Homo sapiens: one gene and its partners. The protein of the gene in region 3 binds, or shares a complex with, the protein of the main gene of each other region. Each region holds a gene or a part of one and is shown on either strand. Other genes may lie near its edges. The genes, in order: TRADD, ARHGDIA and NGFR.

Evidence for each region.
Region 1: the proteins of NGFR (region 3) and TRADD are in contact, whole or in part, in an NMR structure (PDB 7CSQ), measured with the Homo sapiens proteins. Residues at the interface, in NP_002498.1 of Homo sapiens: Glu345, Glu346, Glu348, Lys349, Leu350, Asn352, Gly353, Ser354, Ala355, Glu379, Ala380, Cys381, Arg384, Glu420; in NP_001310481.1 of Homo sapiens: Thr201, Phe202, Asn211, Ala275, Glu276, Arg278, Arg279, Thr281, Gln283, Arg284, Glu287.
Region 2: the proteins of NGFR (region 3) and ARHGDIA are in contact, whole or in part, in an NMR structure (PDB 8X8T), measured with the Homo sapiens proteins. Residues at the interface, in NP_002498.1 of Homo sapiens: Arg274, Trp275, Ser277, Cys278, Lys279, Gln280, Lys282, Gln283, Gly284, Ala285, Ser287, Arg288, Pro289, Val290, Asn291, Gln292, Thr293, Pro294, Pro295, Pro296, Glu299, Lys300, Leu301, Ile307, Ser308, Val309, Gln312, Ser313, Asp316, Gln317; in NP_001172006.1 of Homo sapiens: Ala8, Glu9, Leu11, Ala12, Gln13, Ile14, Ala15, Ala16, Glu17, Asn18, Glu19, Glu20, Asp21, Glu22, Val25, Pro30, Ala31, Gln32, Lys33, Ile35, Gln36, Glu37, Ile38, Gln39, Glu40, Leu41, Asp42, Lys43, Asp44, Asp45.

What each region holds. Positions count from the first base shown.
Region 1 is NC_000016.10:67,153,571-67,157,006, forward strand, and holds the end of TRADD (tumor necrosis factor receptor type 1-associated DEATH domain protein), read right to left. Parts: intron 3,099-3,436; 5' UTR 3,091-3,098; coding exon 2,940-3,090; intron 2,085-2,939; coding exon 1,807-2,084; intron 1,725-1,806; coding exon 1,526-1,724; intron 1,390-1,525; coding exon 1,079-1,389; 3' UTR 615-1,078; downstream 1-614. UniProt on the Homo sapiens protein: Adapter molecule for TNFRSF1A/TNFR1 that specifically associates with the cytoplasmic domain of activated TNFRSF1A/TNFR1 mediating its interaction with FADD.
Region 2 is NC_000017.11:81,869,575-81,873,385, reverse strand, and holds the start of ARHGDIA (rho GDP-dissociation inhibitor 1), read left to right. Parts: upstream 1-2,048; 5' UTR 2,049-2,088; intron 2,089-2,388; exon of another isoform or gene 2,389-2,750; intron 2,751-3,428; 5' UTR 3,429-3,455; coding exon 3,456-3,645; intron 3,646-3,760; coding exon 3,761-3,811. UniProt on the Homo sapiens protein: Controls Rho proteins homeostasis. Regulates the GDP/GTP exchange reaction of the Rho proteins by inhibiting the dissociation of GDP from them, and the subsequent binding of GTP to them.
Region 3 is NC_000017.11:49,493,760-49,497,359, reverse strand, and holds the start of NGFR (tumor necrosis factor receptor superfamily member 16 precursor), read right to left. Parts: upstream 2,068-3,600; 5' UTR 1,943-2,067; coding exon 1,877-1,942; intron 1-1,876. UniProt on the Homo sapiens protein: Low affinity receptor which can bind to NGF, BDNF, NTF3, and NTF4. Forms a heterodimeric receptor with SORCS2 that binds the precursor forms of NGF, BDNF and NTF3 with high affinity, and has much lower affinity for mature NGF and BDNF.

The DNA of each region.
Region 1 (3,436 bases), on a different chromosome or scaffold from region 3:
GGGAGGCTGAAACAGGAGAATTGCTTGAACCCAGGAGGTGGAGGTTGCAGTGAGCCAAAAACGTGCCATTACACTACAGCCTGGGAAATAAGAGTGAAGCTCCATCTGAAAAAAAATTAAAATTAAAAAAAAAAAAAAAACAACCACCTCCCAGTCTTAACTCCCGAAACTCTTCAAAGGCTTCCTACTGGCCTCATTGAAAAACCCACAAGCCTTCCTCAAGCCCTTGCCTGAGACTGTGCCCCGAACACTGCCCTTCTCTCGATAGCCCACCCCTATGCCTACTCACACTCATCTCCTCCAGGAAGCCTACCCCCTGTCCCCTGCCCAGGTTAGGCCCCTTCCTCCATCCTCCACAACTTCTCTTTTTTTTTCTTTCTTTTTTTTTTTTTTTTTTTGAGACAGGGTCTCACTCTGTCACCCAGGCTGGAGTGCAGTAGCTCAGTGACATCTCACTGCAGCCTCAACCTTCCATGCTCCAGGGATCCTCCCACCTCAGCCTCCTAAGTGGCTGGGACTACCCAGGCTGGTCTCAAACTCCTGAGCTCAAGCAATCCTCCTATCTCTGTCTCCCAAATTGTTGGGATTACAGGTGTAAGCCACTACTACTTGTATTTCTCACATCAAAATCCGTGTTATACTTTATTATCATTGCTTAACATTCGGGGTCCCACGCTGAGTGTGAGCTGGGGGCAGGCAAGATTGATTCCTGTTTTACTTCACTGCAGTATCTGCAGCACCCAGGATGAAGTCCAGGACACCAAAGATCAAGGTGCTTCATGAGTGAAACTGTAAGGGCTGGCTGTAAGCCCCGCTTCTGGGATGGGAGAAGGTGAGGCTGATCTCCAAAGCAGGTCCCCCCCACCCCACACTCTATCAAAGTACCTGAGGCAGAATCCCCAATGATGCACCCCCAGTGGTCTGGCTCCTGGGGAAGGCAATCAACTCTGCCCCAGCAGGTCCAGCAGATAGGCCAAGTGGAGTTTCAGGGTCCCGTGGATGGACAGGGGTTCAGCAATAGCCGCAGAAGGAACCCTAAGGCCATCCAGGTTCTCCAAAAGCTGGCTGCACCCCTGGTCTAGGCCAGGCCGCCATTGGGATCGGTCAGGCCCAGCAAGTCCTCTGCCAGGCTGGTGAGCTCGTTCTCCTCGAGTGCCTCCACCAGGCGCTGCAGCGTGGCGCGGCGGCCCTCGGCCTGCACGAAGCGCCGCAGCAGCTGGAAGGCCTGCTCGTACAGTCCCTCGCGCTCGTACTCGTAGGCCAGCGAGTCCAGCGCCGGGTCCCGCAGCGCCCGGCAGCCTCGCTGCAGTGAGCGCCCCACCTTGCGCCATTTGAGACCCACAGAGCGCGCGAACGTCTGTTGGTCCTTCAGGCTCAGCGGCCGATTCACTGCAGAGGGAGTGGGGAAACGGGGTGAGGGCGGGGACCCCCAGCGCCGGTCCCACCCATCCCCACCCGGCAACGACCCCTGCCCCTCCCCAGACTCCAACCTCCTGGTGACCCCGCCTCTCCACCTGCGCCTCACCTACAGGCTGACCCTGGAACAGAAAAGTCTGGGCAGGTGGCGGCGGCGGCGGCGGCTTCACCTCCGACAGAGAGGGCACCGGGGGCTGCAAGGGGGCCGAAGCGACCTCCCCGTCGCCACCCCGGGCCCCCGAGCCGCACTTCAGATTTCGCAGCGCATCCTCCAGCTCAGCCAGTTCTTCATCCCGGAGCCGGTCGGGCTAGGGGAATGGAACGTGCCGTCACGGGGGACTTAACCGCGGATCCCCGCCCTACCCCATCCTGACCCTAGCCCGGCCGCACCTGCTGGGCTAGGATGCAACTCAAACAGCGCTCCTCGTCCGCCAGCAAAGCGTCCAGCCGCTCGGCGCCGGCGCGCAGCTCCAGTTGCAGCGGCACCGAGTGCTGGGCGAGCGCGGCCGCCAGGCTCCTCTGCAGCGCGGCGCGCAGCGCCCCCTCGCGGTAGGCGCGGAGGAAGCGGCCACAGGGCTGCCGCCCGCAGAATCGCAGCTGCACGATCAGCTGCGGGTCGCTGCGGTGGATCTTCAGCATCTGCAGCACGTCCGGGCTCCCGCCGCTCTCTGCGGAGGCGGGCGGTCAGGCGCCGGGCGGTCCCCAAGCTCGGCCGTTCTCCAAACGGCCGGAGGAGGGGCGAAGCCCGTGGTGAAGCCCCGCGTCCCATCCCCTGACCTAGGGTGCAGTTACCCCAGAGTACCCAGCTGGGAAGCAAAATTGGGATACAAACAGCAATAACCCAGAAAGAAGACCAGGATCTGTCACAGGGAGCACCCTAAGACAGAGTGGGTGCCACCTAACCCCCGCTCTCACGCCCCAAATGAGGGTTGGCAAAAGAGAGGGACTTCGAAGCACAGAAAAGGGGGCGTGTGCCCTGGGCAAACAAGCCGTCTGGGTAGGCGGCCAGCAGGGCAGAGGAGGGCGAGAGGTCTCAGGTCTTCGGCCTCCACCAAGCGCGACTCCCACTGCTCGGGAAGAAGAGGGGCTCTCGCCGCTCTGAGGCCACGAACAGATCCCCCAACCCGCTTCAGCCTCCTGTGGCCTCTGCCCTGAGATGGGAAAGGGGGGCCTGGAAGGGTAGGTACTGGGGAGGGGTCTTGAGCAAGGAGTGCTGCAGTAAGAGAGGAAAAGAGGAGAGAGACATCCACAATTAGTAGAAAGGAGTGAGCCGGCTGGTGGAGGGGGGCGGGGATGGAGCAAAGGACGTTAGTGCACAAATTGGTAAATCATACACAGACTCGAGAACACACGCCTATCCTCAAGGTCATGCCACAAGCAAAGAAGAGAGTCTGCACAGCCAGGGGTCCTCCGTCTTGCTCCTCCCACCCCAAATCTTCTTCTTAAAGGTGGCTAAACCCAGGCCCACCCACAAAATGCTCCAGGCCACCCCTTCCTCTCCACATGCCCGCCCATCCACGCACCTGCCAAGGCAGCCTGCAGAGCCCTGTACACTGCCACCTTCTGCTGGGGGTGCGCGTAGGCATCCGACAGGACCACCTTGTCCAGCGAGGACTCCACAAACAGGTATGCGCTGCCCACCCACTCTTCGTGCCCATTTTGCCCAGCTGCCATCTCACCTCCTGGAGATGCAGACAGTCAGGTATCCAGTTCATCCCCCCTCCCTCCACCCTGGAGACAACTACCCAGCCCCACGTGGTTCAGCTGTCCCCACCACAGTAGCCTCAAGTCCCACATGGTTCAGTTGTCCCCACCACTGGTTGGCATACTTGGGACAGGAGTTCACCATCTCACAGGAAGCCCCTTGAGCTCCTGGCTCTGTACAGAGTCCCACCCGCCCCAGGCTTGCAGTGAGGACTGTCCCTCCACTGCCTTCTTGGAGAAAGAGCCCAAGGTCACAGTGGAGGGGGAGCAGAGGCAGATCCTGCAATGGGGCTTCTCTGCTTCCTTCTCAGGCCTG
Region 2 (3,811 bases), about 32 Mb from region 3:
AGTTTTTTTTTAAAAGCACTTGGGTTATTGGAAAGTTGGGCAACATGATCACCTGCACAGGGGCTCTGAGTCTTTAACAGTGAAGCATTTCACACCTGATTAGGAAACGCTGTGCTGATGACATGGCACTGACAGTGTGACTCAGTTACAGAAACTCTCAAATATCCCTCCAACATTCAGAAATTTTCAAAAGACACCAAGCTCGGTATTTTGCATAGTTCTGTCCCCAAAAATGCCCTCCTGTGTTCATGTCTGTGTCTGAACAAAGCAGCTGTGCGTGTGTGTGTGCGTGTGGTCTCCACTTCTCTTGATCAGCCTGGGTTGCCTGGCAGTATGGGCCAAACAGACAGGGCCCTGTCTGCATGGAGCTCAAGAGTGATTAAAAGAGGCTGGGTGGCCGGACATGGTGGCTCACACCTGTAATCCTAGCACTTTGGGAGGCTGAGGCAGGAGGATCGCTTGAGCTCAGGGGTTCAAGACCAGCCTGAGCAACATAGTGAGACCCTGTCTGTACAAAAAATAAAAAATTAGCTGGACATGGTGTTGCACACCTGTAGTCCCAGCTACTCGGGAGGCTGAGGTGGAAGGACTGCTTGAGCCCAGGAGATAGAGGCAGCAGTAAGCTGAGATTGTACCACTGCACTCCAGCCTGGGCAAAAGAGCAAGACCCTGTCTTGAAGAAAAAAAAAAAAAAAAAAAAAGATTGGGCACCCCGGTGGTTCATGCCTGTAATCCCAGCGCTTTGGGAGGCTGAGGTGGGTGGATCACCTGAGGTCAGGAATTCGAGACCAGCTTGGCCAACATGGTGAAACCCTGTCGCTACTAAAAATACAAAAATTAGCTGGGCATGTTGGCTCACACTTGTAATCCTAACTACTCGGGAGGCTGAGGCAGGAGAATCGCTTGAACCTGAAAGGTGGAGGTTGCAGTGAGCCGAGATTGTGCCATTGTACTCAAGCCTGGGCGACACTGAGACTACGTCTCAAAAAAATAATCAATCAATAAATAAAAGAGGCGTCCACGTTAACGAGTCCACAGTCCTAACAAGTGCTGCAGGCTGGACGCGGGGCAGCGTCCCACCCAGTGTCTGGTGCAGGGCATTTAGGGGCTTGGCCTCCAGGAGAGGCGAGCCCGGGGCTGGGTGCGAGCACTGCTGCTGGGCCAGGCCACTCACGTTATGCGGCCGTTCCTGATACTTCAACACGGCCCTTGTGGGCGAATGTGTGGAATCTCGGAACAAGCGGAGTGGGGAACAGGGCTCTGCGGTGAAGCCCAGGCTGAGGCAGCCCCTCATCTGCTCACGGTGCCAGGAGCTCCCTGCCTCCTGGTCCTGAGGAGCCGCGGGATTCCTCAGGGACACTAGGGCCTCTGCAGCGGCGCCTGCGCCAGGCAGCCACGCGCGCTGCGCACGAATTCTGTCTCAGCCTGGAGAAAAACACCTCCGCTGCGCCCTCGCCCAGCACCAGCTTTCCGCGGGGCGTGCAAGGGGCTCCTCCTAGCCCCACAGCCCTGTCTTTCCACGGGGGACACCAAGGCCCTGGAACGGCCCGCGCGCCAGCGCTCTCGCCCGTGTTTAACGAGAACTTAATCCCCGTGCCCGTTACCTCCCCGAAGTCCCGGGACTAGGTGACTAGGCCCCGAAGCAAGAGTCGCAGTCGGACCGACTGGGCCGGGGAGGGCAGCGCACTGCACCTGCGCGGGCTTCCACAGCCCACGCGGCCGCCGCAGGCCTCGAGTGGGCGCGGGTTGGGCAGCGGCGAGAGGCGGGACCGGACCTCGCCTCCCGGGTGCGGGCGCCCTGGGCTCGCGTAGGGAAGTGCCCTGGCTTACAGAGGTGACCACTGACGGGGCTTGGGGTGGAAGGTGACGACGCCAGAACCCACGCGGAACGCGCCCACGAGGCCCAGCCGCAAGATGGCGACGGCGTGCCCCCGGCCACCCGCGCGCCGCGCATGCGCCCTGGCCTTCCCCGCCCGAGTGAGCGGAAGTCTCGTGACCCCGGAAGTGACAGGCAGGGCGGGCGGGGCGGCCGACGACGTTCGTCATTTAGTGCGGGAGGGATCCTGAACCGCGCGGCCGAACCCTCCGGTGAGTGGCCGTGGCGGGGCGGAGGCGGCGGGGCGGAGGCGGCGGGTCGGGGCGGGGACCGGCGGCGCCGGCGGGGGCGGGGGGCGCTGAGGTGGGGGCTTCCGCCTTTGTTCGCGCCCCGCCCTGAGCCCGCGGCAGGGTCTCGGCGGGCGGGGGCGCGGTGACAGCGGGCCAGGGCGGTGCGGGCTAGGGCGGGGCCGGGGCGGGACCGGGCGGCGGCGGCCCCGGCCCCACGTGCGGGTCCCGGGCCGGAGGGGCGGCGGGGACCAGGGGAGTGCCGGCCCCTCCCGAGCGGTCCGGAGCTTCTTTCATGGCCGCCGAGGCGCGTGGGGCCCGGGCCAGACCTGAGGGCCCCTCCTTGGGGACGCGGGGGGCGCCGGGCCGGCAGCCGCGGTCCATCGCGTTCGGGGGCGACGCGGGGATTGGGGCGCGGCCTCCCCCAGCGCCCGGGCCACGCCCGGCACGGATTGCGGGCCCTGCGGAAGTGCGGGCCGCGCCCTAGGATCCCGGCGCCTACGGCTATCCTCGCGCGGCGCGGAGGCCCCAGCCCCTGGAGGAAGCAGGGCGGCCTGGACCCCGGCCTGGGTGTCCCGGGTGTGCTGCTCCCTGACCCACCTCCCACGCTGCCGGGAAGGATCTGAGCCTGACAGATCCCCTGCCGGGTCAGTGCTGCCCCGGGCACTCCGGGCCCACCATCTACAAGAGGGCCCGAGAGTACTGAGTGGCTGTGGTAGCTCCCAAGTTGTAGGTCACAGACCCTCACAATTGTGGAGAAACCGCAGATACTTAGGATCCCCGTGTCCAGGTGGCCCCGTGCGGTATTCTAGCTGCCCCTAACATCCGAGCTCCAGGGGCATCCTGTTTGAAAGATGACGCTGAGCCGACCACACACGTTTACATGTGACTACCACGGCCAGAGGAGCAACCCTACTGAGGGATACCGAGCCCCGTTACCCCGTAGGGCGAGGGCCTGGGCAGCTCAAGAGCGGCAAGACCCTAAGAGAGGGTTTAGTGTGGGCCCCGCCGGTTGATTCTGGGGCCTGCTAGCCCCGCCCCACACATACAGGGGGCTGCTGCCTCCTCCATCGTGGAGGGGGAGGTGTGTCCTCTCTCCCCATGATCGGCTGCAGTTCCCATTTTGTCTTAGATGTTATACCTGGGGTGGGGGCACCTCACACTGCCCCAGAGGATGCCCCTGAGCAGGAATCGCGGGGGTGGAGAGGAGCGAAGGTGGCCCCCTTGGAGCCCTTTTGGAGCTCCGGCTGCAGCCCACACTCCTGCTCAGAAGTGCGCCTCCGTTGGGGATCCAGGTCCAAGGCCTGTCACCGTCCCGCCCACAGGTGTCCCGACCCAGGCTAAGCTTGAGCATGGCTGAGCAGGAGCCCACAGCCGAGCAGCTGGCCCAGATTGCAGCGGAGAACGAGGAGGATGAGCACTCGGTCAACTACAAGCCCCCGGCCCAGAAGAGCATCCAGGAGATCCAGGAGCTGGACAAGGACGACGAGAGCCTGCGAAAGTACAAGGAGGCCCTGCTGGGCCGCGTGGCCGTTTCCGCAGGTGAGTCTGGGCTGCGGGAGCCGGGTGGCCGCCCGTTCACTCCAGCTGTCTTGCCGCTCCCCAGCCCCTACTTCCACTGGTGGGGGTGGGGCCCTCACCTGCTGTCACTCCCCAGACCCCAACGTCCCCAACGTCGTGGTGACTGGCCTGACCCTGGTGTGCAGCT
Region 3 (3,600 bases):
AACCAGCGGCGTTAGTCAGCAGACGTGCCCGCGGTCGCTCCCAAATCCCCGGACGCAGCCACAGGTCCTGACAGCTCCAGGGAACTGGGGCTGAGCTTTCGGGCTGGGGCCCGCACCCGGACAGAATCTCTGCCCACCTCACCCGCAGGCTCTACCGCCGACGGACTCTGGGGACAGTGTCAACCCCCCCCGCCCTGCTGGGAAACGCAGCCGTGACCCCGAGCTGGGACAGCGGCTGCCCCCTGAAAAGGTGGGGGAGTACCGAGCTGGGAATCAGGTCGGGGAGTCTAGCCACGACTCTGGCCCAACTTGCTGTGAGATCTTGGCCAAGTCGTTTAAACTCTCAGAGCCTCAGTCTCCGTATCTGTAAAGCCGGAATTTGGGGCGCAGTGCTCTGATGAAAGATGCTGGCGGGGAGAGTGAAGACGCCTCCTCCGTTGCCAGACCTTCCAGGGCATTCGGTTCATGGCCATAAAGCAGGCCACATCTGACAATCTCGTCGGACCACCCGGAGGACCCGCCGACCTTTGCCGAGTCGGTGGCCCGGGATACCGCGCTACAGAATCCGAGGCGTCCGGGCGCCCCCGTCTCGTTAGGTGCCCAGCGGCTTGCACCGAGAGCCAGGAGAGGCTCAGACCGGATCCCGACCCTTCGAGGCGCGGGAGCCCACGGAGCGCGGTGGGCGCGGCGCTCGGGTCGCGCAGCTAGGTGGGGAGCGGCGCGCAGCCCCAGACTCGCAGGCAGGCAGCGGCGGACTGCACTTGCCTCGCCCCGCAGCGCCCCCTGCCTGCCGCCTCCCGCCTGCGTAGCCAGAGCTGCGCGCGGCCAGGAAGGGTCCCCGCCTAGTGCGCCCCGGCGCTCTGCACCCCGAGACGTAGCCACCGCCAGCCCGGGTAGGGGCACACCCGCTCCGTCCCTCGCGATCCGCTGCGCTGCTTCAAGCCGTGAGAACACGCGCGTCGGAGGAGCCCGCCGGCCGTGGGGGAACCCCGGGAGCGGGTTCGCCCCGGCGAAGTGGGCACTCCCCTCCCAGCCTTAGATCCGCAGCCCCAATTCCGGGACTGGGAGAGGCCGCGAGCAGGAGCGCGGGGACAGGCGCTGGAAATGTCCAAGCCTCTGCTCTCTCTTCTCGTCTCACTGTCCCTCAGCGGGCAGGCGGGACCCCGACCACTTCAGGGTCCGCGCCCCGCTCTGTCTCCTTTCCTTCTGCTTCCATCTCTCTGCCGCCCTCGCCGTCGCCCCTCTTCTGCCCTCCCTAACCCACTTCTCAACCTCTCTCCCGCTCCCCAACCTCTCCCTCCGACGCCCCTCCCCCCCATTGTCTGGCCGGTCCCCATTGTCCTTGCCGGGTCCCCTCTGCCTCCAGTCCCTCCGACCTCCTCCATTGTTCCATCCCGTCGTCCCGGGCTCCCCGCCCCAGCCCAGCTCGCCCCTCTCATCTCTAGTCCCCGTCCAGTTCCCCCTCCTTCTCTCGCCTTGGTTCTGTCCCACGACTCTCCAGAGACCGAGATGCTGAGGGGAAAGTCCCTTCGGGATCCCGGCATTCGAGTGTCCTCTTCCGAAGAACCTGGGCATCGGAGAGCCCCATGCCCCCTCTTGAAAGACCCCTCCCAGCTCCCCCACCGCCCCCTGCGGTACCTGAGGACCGGCATCCGTGCTCCGGTCTTGCCCTCATCTCCACCCTGGAGAGTCGCCTCTGCGCTCCGGGAACCCTAGACCCTCCTTCGTGGTCCCGGCATCAGAGGTCCTTTCCCACCACCCACCCTCAGTATCTGGGACCCCAATGCTCTGTTCTGTTTCCTTGGTGGCGGCGCCCGGCTCTTCTCGGAGTTCTGATCCCGGGAAAGGGAGCGGGCCCCCTCCGGCTAACACTCACCCCCAGAAGCAGCAACAGCAGCAGGCGCGGCCCGTCCATGGCGCGGCCGGTGGCACCTGCCCCCATCGCCCGCCTCCCGCGGCAGCGCTCGACTTCCAGCTCGGTCCGCTTTGCGGACTGATGGGGCTGCGCTGCGCTGCGCTCCAGCGCCCCCCCTGCCCGCCGGAGCTGGCCGCGGCTCGGCTCGCTCTGGCTGCGGGCGGGAGAGGCTGGGTGAAGCCAGTGCTGCGGCCCCGCCTCCGCCCCGCCCAGCCCGCCCACCCCCGGAACCGCGCCCGCCCGCCCTGCCGCCTCGGGGTGGGAAGCAGAGGCAAAGGGAGGGCGTGCGGTTCCCCGCACCCCGCTGCGCTTCTCCCTGCCTTGTCCCTTAGAGCCTCTCACCCATCCCGCCCTGGTACCCAGTTCCCGGCCCGCGCTACTGCGCGTCCGTCCCGGATGCTGTGGGCCCGGGGACCAGGGCGTCCCCACTGCGGTTCCTGTTCCTCTCCGGCTGCGGCCCGCCACAGGGTTCACTCTCTTACCCATCTTCCTCCGCCTCTGGCTTCACCTTCTCCCTGGAGCCTTGCTCCCTAACTGCCCCCTATCAGTAAGAATGCCCGCTTGCCCTCCCTGCCCTTCATCTCAGTCCATCACCCCACCTCCACCCCATCCCCACCCCTCCCCTTCCCAGTGCAGGAGATCCCTGGGCAGAGGCCTAGGGGGAGGGGAGGGGCGCAGGCGCCCTTACCTCGGCCATCGACATTCAAGGTGGAGTCCATTCCGACATCATTTGATTCTCAAATGAGGGGTTTGAAGGGGTCACAGGTGTGCACACAGTGCACAGGAATACACACTCTCAAGCTCACTTGTATGTGTGATCGTGCACTTACGTGTGCCCACACCGTTCTCATGCACTCCTGCCGACCTGACTGTCCCACACATGCACCTCTCCAGGCATGCACACGGGCACATATGTGATCCGGACATTCAAACGCGCATATGTACACATTCACACATGCATGTATACAGTCGTGTCTGCATAAGCCCTCACATGTATACAGTCACACAAACACACACATTCATGAGTGCACACACACACTGACACCCATCAACAAACAAACAGATGCATCTTCAACAATATAGACTTCACCAGACTGTGAGTGTCTCCATGGGCTTATGAGCTCTGCAGGCAGGGATTATGGTTTCTTCTCTGAATTCCTGGTATACAGTAGGGTTCAAGAAAGTTTTGTAGAAGGGAATAAATAGAAAAGTGGTGAAATGGACTCATATCTGTGTACCCATCCATGTGCTAGGACCAAATTCATCTTGCCCTAGAAACCTTGCCAAGTCCAAATAATATGCCTCCCAACCCCAAAAGCATGCCACCCACCCCCATGCTTACCCCTTTCCTGTTCCCTCCATTTCTTCGTTCCCAGACATCAAGACCCTGGAGCACAGAGTTGATGGGGGTGTCTGCAAAGTCTATCCCAACACCCAAATCTTAACCATGTTTGGATTTCAGTTTCCTCCTGGAAAAAAAAAAAATCTCACTACCCTCCCCAGTTATGGAAACAAAAGGGAGATCAAGAGCGCTTGTGGGCCAGGCACATGCCTGTAATCCCAGCACTTTGGGAGGCCGAAGCGGGTGGATCACCTGAGGTCGAGAGTTCGAGACCAGCCTGGCCAACATAGTGAAACCTCATCTCTACTAAAAATACAAAAATTAGCTTCGCGTGGTGGCTCAC